Regions from separate parts of the Homo sapiens genome. Here region 2 is reported to be linked to region 1. The links are microRNA targets in miRTarBase. Many come from high-throughput screens and were not tested one by one. Region 1 holds a microRNA gene; the other region holds the end of a gene's coding sequence.

Region 1 (7,120 bases):
TTATGTTTGTAAAAGACCAAAATATACTATCTACCCCCACCTCTCGCCTACAGACCACCCATGTATTTCACTCTGTGGGAAACAGTTTAGGCATAAAAATCCTAACGAAAGAATTCTCCCCACTTTTTTGGTTGAAGTCTTAAGCTGTTATAAGATATAAAAAGTACAACTTGGTAATGTGAAAAAATTCACTCATCCACAAGCATCCATGCTCGGTAAAGAGACGCCAAAGCTTTCACTTACTCTGTAAGGGATCTGCTCTTTATAAACAATGCACTTTACTCTGCTCTAAGGAGAATAGCCCACCCATCACAATAACGTCAAAATAATAACTAAGAGACCATCACTCAGAAATCCTGGCTTAAAATAACTAGAAGGTCAGGCTTTAACCTGAGACAGGAAATTCCTGAGTTAAGATAGAAACTTTCTTACTTCAAATCCCTTCTTACTTTCATGTTCTGTAAATTAAGTAGAAATAAATATTTACTCATTTTCAAAGGTCTCTTACAAATAATTTTTATCAGTTTTAATAGTTAGAGATAACGAAGTAAATTAGGAAAAATAATTAAATCTTCATTTTGAATTTTTTGACTTAGCGTGACAGCCAGTTTCCTGGAGTTGCTTTGGTTTAATTTCACTACAGAAGACTTAGAAGACAATTCTTTTCTTACATTTTTTTCCTTAAGAAATAAAAGACAAAAAGAAAACAAGGTGTAATAACCACACTAAAAATTACATGGTATGATAATAATACAAATAGCTCTTTTATGTTTTAGCTAGTATTTTAAGTAATAATAAACTAATATTCAACCTATAATTTGGGAGATTAAAAAAAGGTCAATATGGTTTTCAGTCTTTCATCTTTTTAACAAGTTTAGGGGCAGGTTCAACATAACAATGAAGTGTGCATATGTCACATAGTTACTGTAAGTGTGTTTTAAAAATCTATCAGAAACATAAATTGTCCAAAAGCCTTATGAATAGAACAATTGTTTTCAGCAAGATTTTTTTTTTCCCCTGAAAAACTGTTGTGGTTTTTCTGGCTCAAAAAATTTTTATATCTTGCCTTAATAAAACTGTTTTATATTAAAGCATAACATACAAACTCACAAATATTTCTTTTTATTTTTTCAGGTTGCATGCATCATTCCTTTAATTGAGCAGAGTTAACTGGATCAAATTATTTATGGGAGAGAGAGGAAAAGTTATAAAGAATTATAGTAATTTTTAATTTCCACCAATATACTCTTTGTAAGTGAATCACTCTATAATTACTTTCTGTTGCACTGAATGCAGCAACAATAACACAATAGTATTTTAAGGCACTGGTTTTTGGCATACTCTAACCTTGTAATTATTTAAATAACAGCCAAGTTTACTCATGTTTTTGATTCTGTCAAGAAAAAAAAAAAGTTCCTTTACTCGAAAGTGATGGCCGAAACAGAATCGGAAATTTGTTTTCTTGAAATTACATAAATACACAGAAAATGGCACTTATTAGCTTTTGTTAAAACATTACCTTACCTAATCACTGCATAAAAGTCCAGATTTGTAGAAAATTGTAATTTTCTCAGTATCTAAAACTATTTTGCTTTCCATTAAGTTTCTATTTGCTATTTTCTCAGAATTTTACAATTAAAGATAAATCACAAACTGTTTGTTTTTCTTAAAGTTCTTTGAGAAAATGTCTAATTATACAATCCTTGGACAATACTGTGTTTTTTTGGTGCTGTGTTTTTTAAGAAGTCCTACTTACTGGAATTTTGACTATTTGGATATTTTTGTTTTTAAAAGGGGAGGGGAATTTGCTTAATACTTCTAAAGATGTGAATTGATAATTGATATTAAAATAGAATTACTCTCAACTCACCAGAATTAAATTTTATATCTGCATATTTAACACTATTAGCTCATATAAATTATAAGAAAAATTTTCAAAGGATCTGGTTTTAATTTTTTGGATATGAAATGAATTTGCCTTTTCTGCCTTTTCTTAAGTACTATTTTGTAACTATATTGCACTAACTATATCCAAAACACATTCTGAGCATCACTGTGAGTAACAGCCTTCCAGTTTGTACCCTTTTGATTCACAGCATGGCCCTATAGTTAATTAAGAGGTGGATAACTTAAGCTCACAACTGCCTTTAATTTGATTTCACATCCACAGTTATAAACTTTGCATTTAAAAGGAAAATGAGACATTTAAATAGGTTCCTGTTGTTTCACATATAATTGGTAAAAACATATTCCCTTGTAGGATCCTATTATCAGAGCATCAAATACCAAAGTCAGCAACTTGGGTTGCCAAATAAATTAGGCTCATTAATTATTTTGAAAAGGGCTGCTGTTTCCATGTAAATGATAATTTTCTTTTTCATGGACAAGGTTATGGTACTTATCTACTAAAAGAAACATGCATAAACATAGTTTTTATCTTTAACTTCAGTATTAAAATATGCAGTTTTTTGCAAAGAGGAAAAACATCTGGTTCAATTACGCTGAACTCTGACTACATGTGGGCCAGTAATAATATGAATTGGACTTAAGAATAAACCTTGTGTTTAATCTCTTTTTTTCCTTAAAATTTTAATGTGAGTTTTCTGTTACGCAAATTATCCATGTTAGCACATTTGGAACAAATGTATAAATGTACTTTCTGAATAAAGTCAAAAGTCTAACTTGTTTTTAGTTCCATAATGTTTTAATGTTTAATTATATTGTGTATTTTTCTCCCTTTCCCCTTACTCTCCAAAATCACCAAATCTGGAAAACAGGCTGATTGTATCTGTCTATGAGCAAAGGAAACCTGAAGGAACCAAGGGCCTGGCTGGACAGAGTTGTCATGTGTCTGCCTGTCTACACTTGCTGTGCAGAACATCCGCTCACCTGTACAGCAGGCACAGACAGGCAGTCACATGACAACCCAGCCTGAATGACAACCAGCCATTGAAAGAAAGCAGCCCTCACACCATAGCATCTACACCAAGAGCTACAACCAAAATGAGGGGCTCGGGGGCCTGGGGTTTTAATCTGTTGGTTTAATACTTAACTCATGTATTATTTTATTTTGATTCAAGTATTAAAACCCACCAAAAGTAAAGTGAGTGGTGCCTATGAAATATAATAAAACCCATTTCTGAAAATGTTCCTGTGCATTCTATAGTTCTCTTTTCCTAATTGTTGTCAGCAAATCACTACCCTTGACCTTTATTGTACACAGCTTTGCAGCACCCTATATTGATATAAAAACTCAATATAACAAAACAATATAACTTCAGTCTGATGCTTAACAAAGAATAAATTATTCTAAGAATTCTTGTCCATAAACTAAGTATGGTTTTCTATGTCATGATTTTTTTTTTTTTTTTTTTTTTTTGGAAGGGGATAGGGTGGAAAGACAGAGAAAAGAAAAGGGAGAAAAAGAGTATTCCAAAGGATCAAGTGCTTTGAGTTAACTCTGCCAGTCTGGGTTAACTCTGCCAGTCTGGGTCTGGGCAAAACACAGTGAAAAGACTACTATTTCCAACTAGTGTTCAACTATATTAAAATAATAGTTTCTCCTCTTTTGACATATGGAAAGTTGAAATTTTTGATACTTCCACGCGTCATGGTATACATAAATTTATGACTGCGTCATTCTTTAATTAAGAAGGTGCTTATGCTACAGTTCTAGGAGTAGAATTTACAAGGCCAACACATTCACTTGCAACCTATGCTTCCATCACTATAAACTTTCAAGATCTTGAGATGTTCAGGCAATTCATTTATCTTCAGAAGCATAAGGAAAGTGGTTAATGCACTTGAAATGTATATTTTGACACATCTTTTGAGAAAATATCCAAACTTCAGTTTATGCACTGTTAACTGGAGTGAAATGATAAGGGATGGCTTTTGTCTATGAATACTTTAAATACTTAAGGGTAAAAGGTGGGAAGATGGATAAAATTAGAAATGTGTCAACTTTTATTTAGTTCATTAACATGTTTTAGCTTCAGTATTTGAAATTAATTTTCATCTTTCTTAGATTCTGGTCAAGCTTAAAAAATGTAACACAAGGCTACTCAAAACTTTTTTCACATTTAACAATTAAACACTTTATGTATGTATTCTTAACTAAAGCAAACTATTTTTCATTCAGCTATTTTATTTTTAAAATGAAAGTCTCAGTCTTAAAGCTAAGATCCCAGTGAGTTTCAAATTTTCTGACAATGATATTTTAACCAAACCTGACATTATAGTTTCTTTAATTAAAAAACTGAATGATGGGGCAAAACTACAAAGCACAAATATGATTAAAGTTAAATTTCTCTCATTTAAACAATCTTGTCTTATGGCAATATGTCATCTGCTAAAATTCATCTCTGCTTCTGCAAGATACATTGCACGATGCAGATTTTTGCCTTAAATAAAAGTCCCATTACTAGCAAATAAAGTCCTAAACAATACTTACAAAATGTAGAATATAAACAGGAAGACAATATAAAAATTACTCACAGAATATCGACATCGTTCTACCCAATCTTAAATGCCTTGTACCACCTGTTGCAAATGCTGCCTATGAGAGTTCACGTATGGAATTATTCTACTGGACCCTGCAAGGCTCAGGAGAGTGCTTGACAGCTCCCAGAATGAGACAATGACCTAGCCAGAACATTAAGGAGACTACACCCGTCCTTCAGACTCCAAAGGGAAAGCTAGGACGGCAGCAGAGTCATCCTAAGGTGAGGCACTCCAGGATAACATTTTCAATATTTTTCCTTAAAACATAAAGTTAACACCTTTTTTGTTAAACATTTTTTACTCAATTTTCAAAAAAAATGCTTGAAAGAATGTTTTGTATGTATTTTAAAGTCATTAAATGAGGCACATTTAAAAATTTTTCTCTTCTGGGAAAGGGTAATATAAAGGATAATATTGCTCTTCCAGGATAAACTTTTGAGTGGGACAAATAATGCATATAGGGGAGTGGGTTTGAATCTAAACTCATTTTTAATAAATTTGGAATAGGATTGGCCATTATGGTTTATTGAATAATACTCTTTTTTTCAAAATTATAAATCTTTAGATAATACCAGAACATGGAAATATTTGTATGAATAATCCTATATTAAAAAAGAATAACATCAGATAGTTTATGTATGTAAAAAAATATACAACTGTGATCATGCAGAATTTTAAGTAATATAAGTGGATTAGAGTTCAATATTTACTGGGACTTTTGTGAAAATATCTAAGTTTTGGCTAACTAAATAACTTAACGAAGGAGTGTGAACAGTGTTCACAGGGTCGACGCTGACCTTTTCCACCACAGGGAGTGTGCAGATCTGGTAGGAAATATGCACAATCTTAAAAGTATAAGTGAAACTAGAAAGAGAGCTGAATATTTCTATAACTTCTTGATCTCACAACTTTGATCATCCAGGGATATAACTGTCATTTTGTTTCCTATTTCTGAAGTTACATTTGTCATTTGTTATTGTTACAAAATGAAAACAATGCTAAGTAAATATCCCTATAAGGGAATTATATAATCTCCTTATCAAGTTATCCAAACACTTCAACCCACAAAAATGAGGCCTGTAATTTCTTAAGAGTCCAAAGAATGTCCTTATTTCAATGCAGATGTTGGGTTTTCCTCAATAGTATAAGGTTAGCAGATTTCCACTGGAAACGCCTATGTTGCATTATTCTGCTTGCCTAGGAGTAGCTCATTATGATTTAAATCTTTACACACTGGGCTATAGAAATAGAATAAATATTGACTAAGTGCTTTTATTATACATAAATTAACAGTCCTCTTTCTTCAGAGATTTGAATTATCTCTTAAAATTTACATATTTATGTATTTTTAAAACAAATTTCTCATTGGTTTTAAGAAAAATAAGGCTCTTTTCTCCTTGAATCAGGGTCTCCCATTCTCCTAAAATTCACATTTTAGACATAAGTTAAAGAAAAGCCATCATTTTTTTCAAGTCTGATTTTAAAGTATTAATGTAAAATTATCTAGATCAAAAATCCATTTCAAAAAACTTTTGAAATGACAGTTTCTGTTTTATTCTCACATCTTGCTTTTTACTAAATCCCTTTCCAAAAATGTACAACATATATGGGCAATGTATGAAAACAACATTGGGAAATTAATTTTCTGTTTAAATGATTTTCAATCCAGGAAGTCACATATATATAGTCAGAGGATAAAAAACAAACAAACAAACAAAAAACAAAAACAAAAACAAAAAAACACTAACCTTCAATGATGAAAATTAACAAAATTTAAGACAATTTAAGACAATCTACCTTTAGTGGTAATTTTATTCTGTAATTCAATAATTTAATTTTGACACTTGATATGCCAGGACGTGATTAATTATTATGCTGCATTTATTCATTCATTTGCTCAATGACACCTTCATTCAATCAATATTTAGTTAGTGTCTCCTATCAGTGCTATGTCCCCTGGTGGTAGGACAGGGAACAAACAATGTCTCCTGGTCTCAAGAGGCTTACAGTTTGCTGCAACTCTTAGCATGTGTGATGAGTTGTTCATGTCAATTTTCACCTTCCAAAAACATCTCTTAAATCCGTTCATTTTTATCAAATTCCAACAACTCATCCCAGCCCAAGCTACCATTATCTATGCAGACCACAATAGATGTAGAAAGCAATAGCTTTCTAGTAACTCCCCAGTCCAGTTTCGCCCTCTTCCAATCCATTCTCCACAAGGCAACCAAAGGAATCAGTAAAGAATTCAAATCTTATCATGTGACTCTCCAGCTTAAAAAACTTCTCATCATTCTTAATATCAAAATCCTCATCTTTAGAGTGCCTTTCTCTTTTTGCTCCAGTCACACTGGACTTAATTACCCTCCTTAAATTCATCAGGCTCAATCCTGCCTCAGAACATTAACACAAACCTTCTCTGACCATCCAATGTAAAGTACCCCCTACCTGTGTCCTCTATCCCAGACACTCTATGTCAACTCATCACTGGCTTTATTTTCTTCCTAGCCTGTAATCAGCATCTGCTAGGTTTTCCTATTTATTTGTATGTTTGCTTTATTGGGAAAGAGCCTTCATAAGAATAGGTACCATGAATTCCTTGCTAATCATTTTATCC
Region 2 (7,102 bases), not on the chromosome of region 1:
TCCCTTTCTTTATAGCATCTACCTCAGTTTCTTTATTAAATATATTCACTTAAATAGTATCTAGACTCTAGGCCAAGAGAGACAGACTATTGGGAGTGGTAGTGACTGGGGCAAACTGGAGATTGCCTGCCCCATCTAAAGCACTCAGCTTCAGCCATCACTGCAGTGCAGGGTTGCAGGCTCAGCTCTGCCAGACCTCCTTGTTTTCAAGGAAGGCAGAAATCCAGATTTTCAGGTGAAATCTCCTGCTTTTTGAATGTTGACATTTAATTAATTTTTAGGCACATGTAGGGTGATCCAAATTGGTCTGGGGTCAGGATTTGGCCCACAGTCTATCAGTTTGCGTCATCTAGTTTTAGTTTTGACTTTAGGTTTCTTGAAGGAAGGGACCAAGCCTGCTTTTGTCATCATTATATCCTCACGGCTTAGGTGTAAGCCTGTCAGAGAGCCTGGTACAGGAAAGGCACCTGTTTGTAAAATAGATGGGTGGATGGAGGGGAGGGTAGGCAGATGGATGAGTGAATAAATTCTTACAGTCTTCAGAGCACAAGTATTTCAAAGCAGCCTACCTGGGAACTGCTCATGGTCCTGCTGGCCACCTAGACCACCAATGCCCTGACTTCTATGCCCTCTGCAGAGAATCCGTGCCTGGGACAAGTAGTCCGAGAGGTGATCCGCCGCCAGAAAGGTTATGCATCATGTGCCACAGCCTCCAAGGTGCCCATCATGGAATGTCGTGGGGGCTGTGGGCCCCAGTGCTGCCAGCCCACCCGCAGCAAGCGGCGGAAATACGTCTTCCAGTGCACGGACGGCTCCTCGTTTGTAGAAGAGGTGGAGAGACACTTAGAGTGCGGCTGCCTCGCGTGTTCCTAAGCCCCTGCCCGCCTGCCTGCCACCTCTCGGACTCCAGCTTGATGGAGTTGGGACAGCCATGTGGGACCCCCTGGTGATTCAGCATGAAGGAAATGAAGCTGGAGAGGAAGGTAAAGAAGAAGAGAATATTAAGTATATTGTAAAATAAACAAAAAATAGAACTTATTTTTATTATGGAAAGTGACTATTTTCATCTTTTATTATATAAATATATTACACCATCTGCGTATATGTACCATATAGTGAGTTATTTTTACCAAGTTTTGTGTTGTGTATTTGTTGTGTTTTTAAAAATAGCTGTTTAAAAATTTAAGAAAAAAATAGACTAATAAAAATGCTTTAAAACAAAAGGATAAGAATAAAGAATGATAGCCTGTCTGAGGAAGGAGGAAGATGTTTTCATGTTTATGAAACGGTATTATGTCGGCAGTAGACCAAGAGCTGCTCATTGAGATCAGAAAAAGGAATAAGAGGAAGAGAGAGAAGGAAAAGACCTTTGTTTCTTGTTTTTTAACTCCCTTTTATTTTTCCTCCCCTAAAATTACCCAGCTTTTCGGAGTCCTGGATGTCAGTGCCCAAAATGCCCAGTTCTTCCAGGAAAAGCTGCTGAGCCCTGGCCTTCTCAGTCTCACTGCCACTCAAAAATATTGCTGTCCCTGTCTGTCCCAGACCCCCCTTCAGGGTATCTGAACCCACTGGGGGACCCCTCTTCTCCTTCCTGGGTGGCCCTGGCTTCCGTATCTGAACCCACTGGGGGACCCCTCTTCTCCTTCCTGGCTGGCCCTGGCTTCCAATCGAGGACTGACTATTGAAGTCTGCTACAGGTGTCATTTGGAACTGTCTTACCAAATTTTAAAACAGCTGCTATTTTTCCTGCTCCTCCCCAGGAGAGGGGTCTTCCTAGAGGAGGCGAGGGAAGAGAATATCATGGTGTCTCCTCAGGACCCATGCACTGGCCCTCTCTCCTCCTTCCAGGTAATTTTTCATTGGAATGTATCCCAGTAGAGAAGGTAGTCAGCCCTTCTTGGAAGCGGAAGGCTGGGAGCCAAGTCAAGTCTGCCCACAGCGCTAGATGTCCAACTCTGGAAGGTTCTTGGAGGCTCTTGTTGTAAGACAGGCCTCTGCCACCTGATCCTCCAGGTCACCAGCATGACGATAGAGACTCCTTGCCCATCTGTGACACTTTCCAATGCATATCCAAACTTTACCTTATTTTATCTATGCAACCCCTGCCTCCCTGGGAAGGATAAGGGAGTAGAGCTGGGTTCACTAAGAAGGAAGTTTAGGCCCTCACAGGCTCTGGAACTTGCCTTAAGCCACACACCAGATAAGTGGAGGAGCCAGACCAGAAGTCCAGACCCAAAGCTTGAGATTCTTCCTCTAGAATGGGTGAGCACAGGTGATTCAGGCGGCTTAAATCCATCAGAGCAGCCCTGCCGGAAAAGGAAATAATATGATGTTTTTTCCTGCTCTTGTTCTGCCTTGCTCACTCCTTCTCCCTCCGCAGTATCTGGAAAGATTCTGGAGACCAGGGCTTATGCATCTAGGGAAAGTGACCAAGGGCAGCCTATCCAGCCTCTGCCTCCATTCCTGAAGGGGACTTCCCTGCCCCTGTTTCTTTCCATGTCTCTCCCTCCCTCACTCCCATTTGCCCCCTTCCACCCCATCAGGTTAGCCACATATCTTCCAGGGCTCAGCTGTTCACACCAACTCCCTGGCTCTTATCATCCATCCCTCCTTCCCCCAGGAGCTTCCACTGTAGGAGTTTCAGGGAGAAGAGTTTGGAATTCATTGGACCTTTCAGCCCTCAGGTTCCCTAGAGGAGCCTAGTTGATCTGTGAGTACCAATGGTGGGCCAAAGACGCAGGGAATAATGAAGGGAGAAAGAAAAGAAAGGAAGATGGAGGAAAACGAGGCAACTGGAAGAAGGAAGGAAGGAAAGAAGGAAGGGATGGAGGGGATGAAGAGAAGGGAGAGAGGGATATAGCTGAGGAATTTATCTAAAAATGTGCATGTAAATCTCCATTATGTTCCAGGTACTGTGCCTTATGATGGCTTTGTTTTTTGTTGTCATTAGAGACAAGGTCTTGCTTTGTCACCCAGGCTGGAGTAGAGTGGTTCGATCATAGCTCACCGCAGCCTCAACCTCCTAGGCTCAAGCCATCTTCCTGCCTCAGTCTCCCAAAATGCTGGGATTACAGGTGTGAGCCACTATGCTCAGCCTGTTTCAAACATTATTATAATAGCAGATTTATTTAGTACTTTATTATACATCAGATACCACTCTAATTGTGAAATAGATATATATTCATTTAATTATTGAAACAACCATGTAGTTAAAACACTATTAACTCATTTTACAGTTGAGTAGACTGAGACACAGAGAAGTTAAAGAACTTGCCCAAGAGTAAATGTCTAATAAACCGTAGAGCCAGGATCTGGGCCCAGGCTGTCTGACTCCAGAACTTGCTCACTCAACCACTAAACCATCCTGCTTCTCATGGGAAAGAAACACATCCTGCCTTTGAGGATCCTACAGCCTGTGACAAAAACAGTCATAAAAATGGACAATTGCCTTATTACACAAGGAGCTCTTAAGTGGCAATACAAGCAATGGAAGTGGCTGTCCAGAGGAGGGAACTTCTAGTCCTAGGTCTTTAAGGATGAATAGGAGTTTGCCAGAGTGAGAAAGGGAATTGAACTTTCCTGGGAGTGGCCTTTTAAAAAGCAATGAGATATGGCCAGGCCTGGCTTGTTTGGGGAAGAGTCAAAATCTAGGGTGGCAAGAGTATGGGAAGCACACTGAGGAGCAGAGAGAAATGGGGTAGGTAGGAAGGTAGGGTTTTGACCACAAAGAGCTGTGCATGCTAAACTGGGCCACAGGTGCCAGCAGGGTTGTTTGAGGAAGGGAAGAGCAAGACAAGCTCTGGTTTAGGAAGAGAGCTGTGGCAGCATAAAGGCCTGAAAGAGGAGACAGAGCTGTCACCCAAAATGGACTTGAGAGCTCCCTGTGGTTTACTCTGTGGCTAGAAAACACTGCCGGCCAGATGGATCACAAATGTCTATGGTAGCTTAGAAGCTCTGCTCTTGAAGAGGATCCTGGGATCTGCCCAACACCCTTCCCAACCTCCATTTCCCCATCCCCACCTCCATTGCCCCATCCCCCCTCTCCCCCTAGGCAGGTGGATCTGAGCCTTATCCCACCACCAATGCCCCTGCTAGCCTCTCCCCACCCAGCCCAGAGCCTACTCAGCCTGCCATCTCAAGAGCCCCACCGAGGGTCACTGGCTTCCTGGGAGGAGTCACCAGGCTGCCAGCTTTCCCTCTGCCTCCCCAAGGAACCTGAGACCTCCCTCTGCTCATCACCCTGGGCCCAATCCTGAATCCAGCCCCCATCAACCAAGACAGCAAAAGGGCCAGGTCTGTCCCTTATAATTTTGAGCCTTCTCCCTCAAGTTTGGAAGCCCTGACTTTAAGAAATGCCAAATGCAAGGACCATTAAGAAAATTCTCCCCGAAATGAGGCTCCTCTAACAAATGATGATTAAAACGCTCTCTCCTTGAGCAGTCACATTCTAGAAACAGGACATTCCATGAGGCAGGAAGAGTTCAGTTAATTTGCTCCTGAAAAAGTGTGGTTCAGTGTTTGTGTGGCAATGTACGTGGGCAGAAGAGGCCGCTCAAGCTGTGTCCCCCCTGAGCAGGATTCAGGAAAGGGAAAAGAAGTTCTCTTCAACTCAGCCAAGGGGCCGTACGATGGCCGATGAGATTATGTATTTAAAAGTTCTTTGTAAAGTGTAAACTAAAAACCTTAAATGTAAGATGCTGTTGTTATTATTACTGTTGTTGTTGCTGTTATGGACATGCCAAAAGGCCCTTGTTAGAAGACAGTTTTGCCTTTTCAATCTCATAGCAAGGAACTCAAGTCTGATGCTTCAAAAAGATGAGAAGAAGGGCAAGAAGAGGGATAACTCCCAAGCTCAGAGGGAAAAAAAAGGTGGGGGAAAAGAGCCCCAGGGTGACCTTCAGGAAAGGCCAGGACCAGGATGATCTAACCTTTCCCTTCACCAGAAACAAAGCTATTGCCAGACTGAACCCTAAAGTCAAGCAGTCACCCACTGCCTTTGCTGGGAGCAGAAGCCCATAGCAACAAGTGACCTGCCCCTCAGACTCAAGATCCCAGATACCAGAGCTGGAGGAGTCATAGGGCATTACTGGTAGGCAGGAAAACTGAGGGTCGAACAAATGGAAGAATGCGGTGATCATAGACCAAAGACACACAGATAATTAACCCCATGTGTCCACCCAGGCCAAAGTTCTTCCTGCTACCCCACAGTGGATGTCCAGGCAGATGGTCCCCACATGATGGGGAAGCAGAGGGCATAGTGTGGTTTTGTGGGACTTGTTCATGTTTTGTAGTGTGGGCTCAACAGTGCCAAAGGAAACACTAGGGAAAAGTTGGTGAAACATGCCAGCTAGCAGGACCAGTAAAGGCATAATCAGGCATTTGGCAAAGCTTGCTTTTCTAATTCAATGATAGGTTCTAATAGGAAATTTTTGAAGATTTTTTAAAACAATGTTATAGTGGCACTTCCCCAGTATGGAATAAATAACATGCATTCTTTTTTCAATATACTGTCATATTCAGATGTCATTAAAATAAATGGATGAGTCACAGAGGAGCTATCAGATGCTCTCATGACTACCATAACTCAGCCCTGCTCCACGGTGTCTGCTTTATTTTTACCCCTGATTTTCAAACCCCCTGGAACAAAGATGACTGCATTCATGGGGTCTGGGGAAAGTCTGGTGTGGAATTAGATCAAAGAATCAGTTTCTTGGATCATGAAGTAAGAAAAATGGATCCAGAGTTCACCAGAACCATTGAAGAGACGACCCAACACACAGCTTAGGGTCAGCAGGGGATGTGGTCCCTATGGCCACAGAAGGTGCCAAGGGTCATGGGGAAGAAAGCCACTACAGTTCAGAGGAAGAGAACACCCTACTGATATGTGAAGGAATATTCCTCCTTATAGGACTCCAATGCCTAATTAAATTTCTCCTTTATCAGTTCCTTCAACAAGTATTTATTGAGCATCTACTATGTGCCAGGTACTGTTCTACGCTTTGAGGACTCCAAAGATGATCAAGACCAAGTCCTTGTTCTCCTGGAGTTTAACTGAGGGGGTTTGTGCCAATCAACAAATAAAGATAACACCCGATAGTGATAAGTTCACTTCCACAAATAAAGAAGAGGAGACACTCCAGAATAGCTGGGTGGGTGCTTCATGCAGTGAGGTCAAGAAGGCCTCCCTAAGGAATTGGGACATGGGGTGGGGCAAATACCAAGAAATGGAAGGGGAAGTAACCTGGCCCTGCGGTACTCACTAGATATTTGCTTTGTGTGGGTGTCATCCGAGGGAGGCAGGCAGCCCGAGCAACTTAGGAAGCCAGAGAGGATGGCCTGGGCAAGACAGCATGAGAGGGAGGGGAGGGGCAAGCAGGGCTCTCAGCCTCTCAGCCCTGGGGCATCCTCAAGGGGCTATGCACTTTTAGAAGGAGGATTGCTAAGGGTCTGGAGGCTGCCACTGGCTGGCTGGAGGTCATCCTCACTTCCCTGGCAGATGGCCTTCCATCTGCCCTGTGGAGACCCCTCTGAGAGCAAGACACTAGTGGGCAGCAGATGCACCAGGTGCTAAAAAAGGGGCTAGACTCTGTGGCCCCCAGCCGGTTGTTCCTTCTTCCCCCAGGTCTCCCTGAGCAAGACAAGGTCACACTGACTGGGGGCCCTAAGCCTCCAGCAAAGATGCCCTTGTATAGTTTTATACATTTTAGTGTGCATTTATCTGAAATAGGTAGGGAGTGGATTCTGCACTGACACACACCATGTCAGACAGCCTGGATTTTCCTGCCAGGAGGAGCTACTGCCAAGAAACCTACAGTGTCCATCTCCCATGTTTATGCCAGGAGCCCCTCCTCCCAGGTTTGGGACCTAGATGTGTATCCCTCTATCTCAAATTCCCTATTATATCAATCGATAGCAGAGGTTCTCAACTGGGAGAGGTGTTGACCCCACCCAGGAGACATCTGGCAGTGTCTGCAGATATTTTTGATTGTATAACTGGGACACAGGGTGCTATTAGCATCTAGTAGGTAGAGACCAGGGGTGCTGCTAAACATCCTACAATATACAGGACAGCTCCTTGACAACAAAGAATTATCCTGCCCAA

What was found. The annotated mature microRNA hsa-miR-214-3p reads ACAGCAGGCACAGACAGGCAGU and lies in region 1 at 2,894-2,915, shown strand. An mRNA with a match to its seed (bases 2 to 7 or 8) in the 3' UTR can be bound and repressed. Matches are read on the target gene's strand: a 7mer-m8 pairs with bases 2 to 8, a 7mer-A1 pairs with bases 2 to 7 and ends in A, and an 8mer does both.
Region 2: the mRNA of SLIT3 is a reported target of hsa-miR-214-3p. Seed matches in the 3' UTR shown: 7mer-A1 at 1,477-1,483.

What each region holds. Positions count from the first base shown.
Region 1 is chr1:172,134,611-172,141,730 of GRCh38, reverse strand. MIR214 (microRNA 214) reads left to right here and starts at 2,824; the gene lies at 2,824-2,933. All of the region lies in intron 14 of DNM3 (dynamin 3), which reads right to left. It overlaps DNM3OS (DNM3 opposite strand/antisense RNA), which reads left to right. Exons shown (of 4, transcript NR_103486.1): 4 at 1,135-4,852. MIR3120 (microRNA 3120) reads right to left here and starts at 2,923; the gene lies at 2,843-2,923.
Region 2 is chr5:168,660,225-168,667,326 of GRCh38, reverse strand. SLIT3 (slit guidance ligand 3) reads left to right here. Exons shown (of 36, transcript NM_003062.4): 36 at 638-5,587. The coding sequence ends at 873. Among named protein-coding and RNA genes, the nearest start is that of SLIT3-AS2, 43 kb to the left of the region's middle.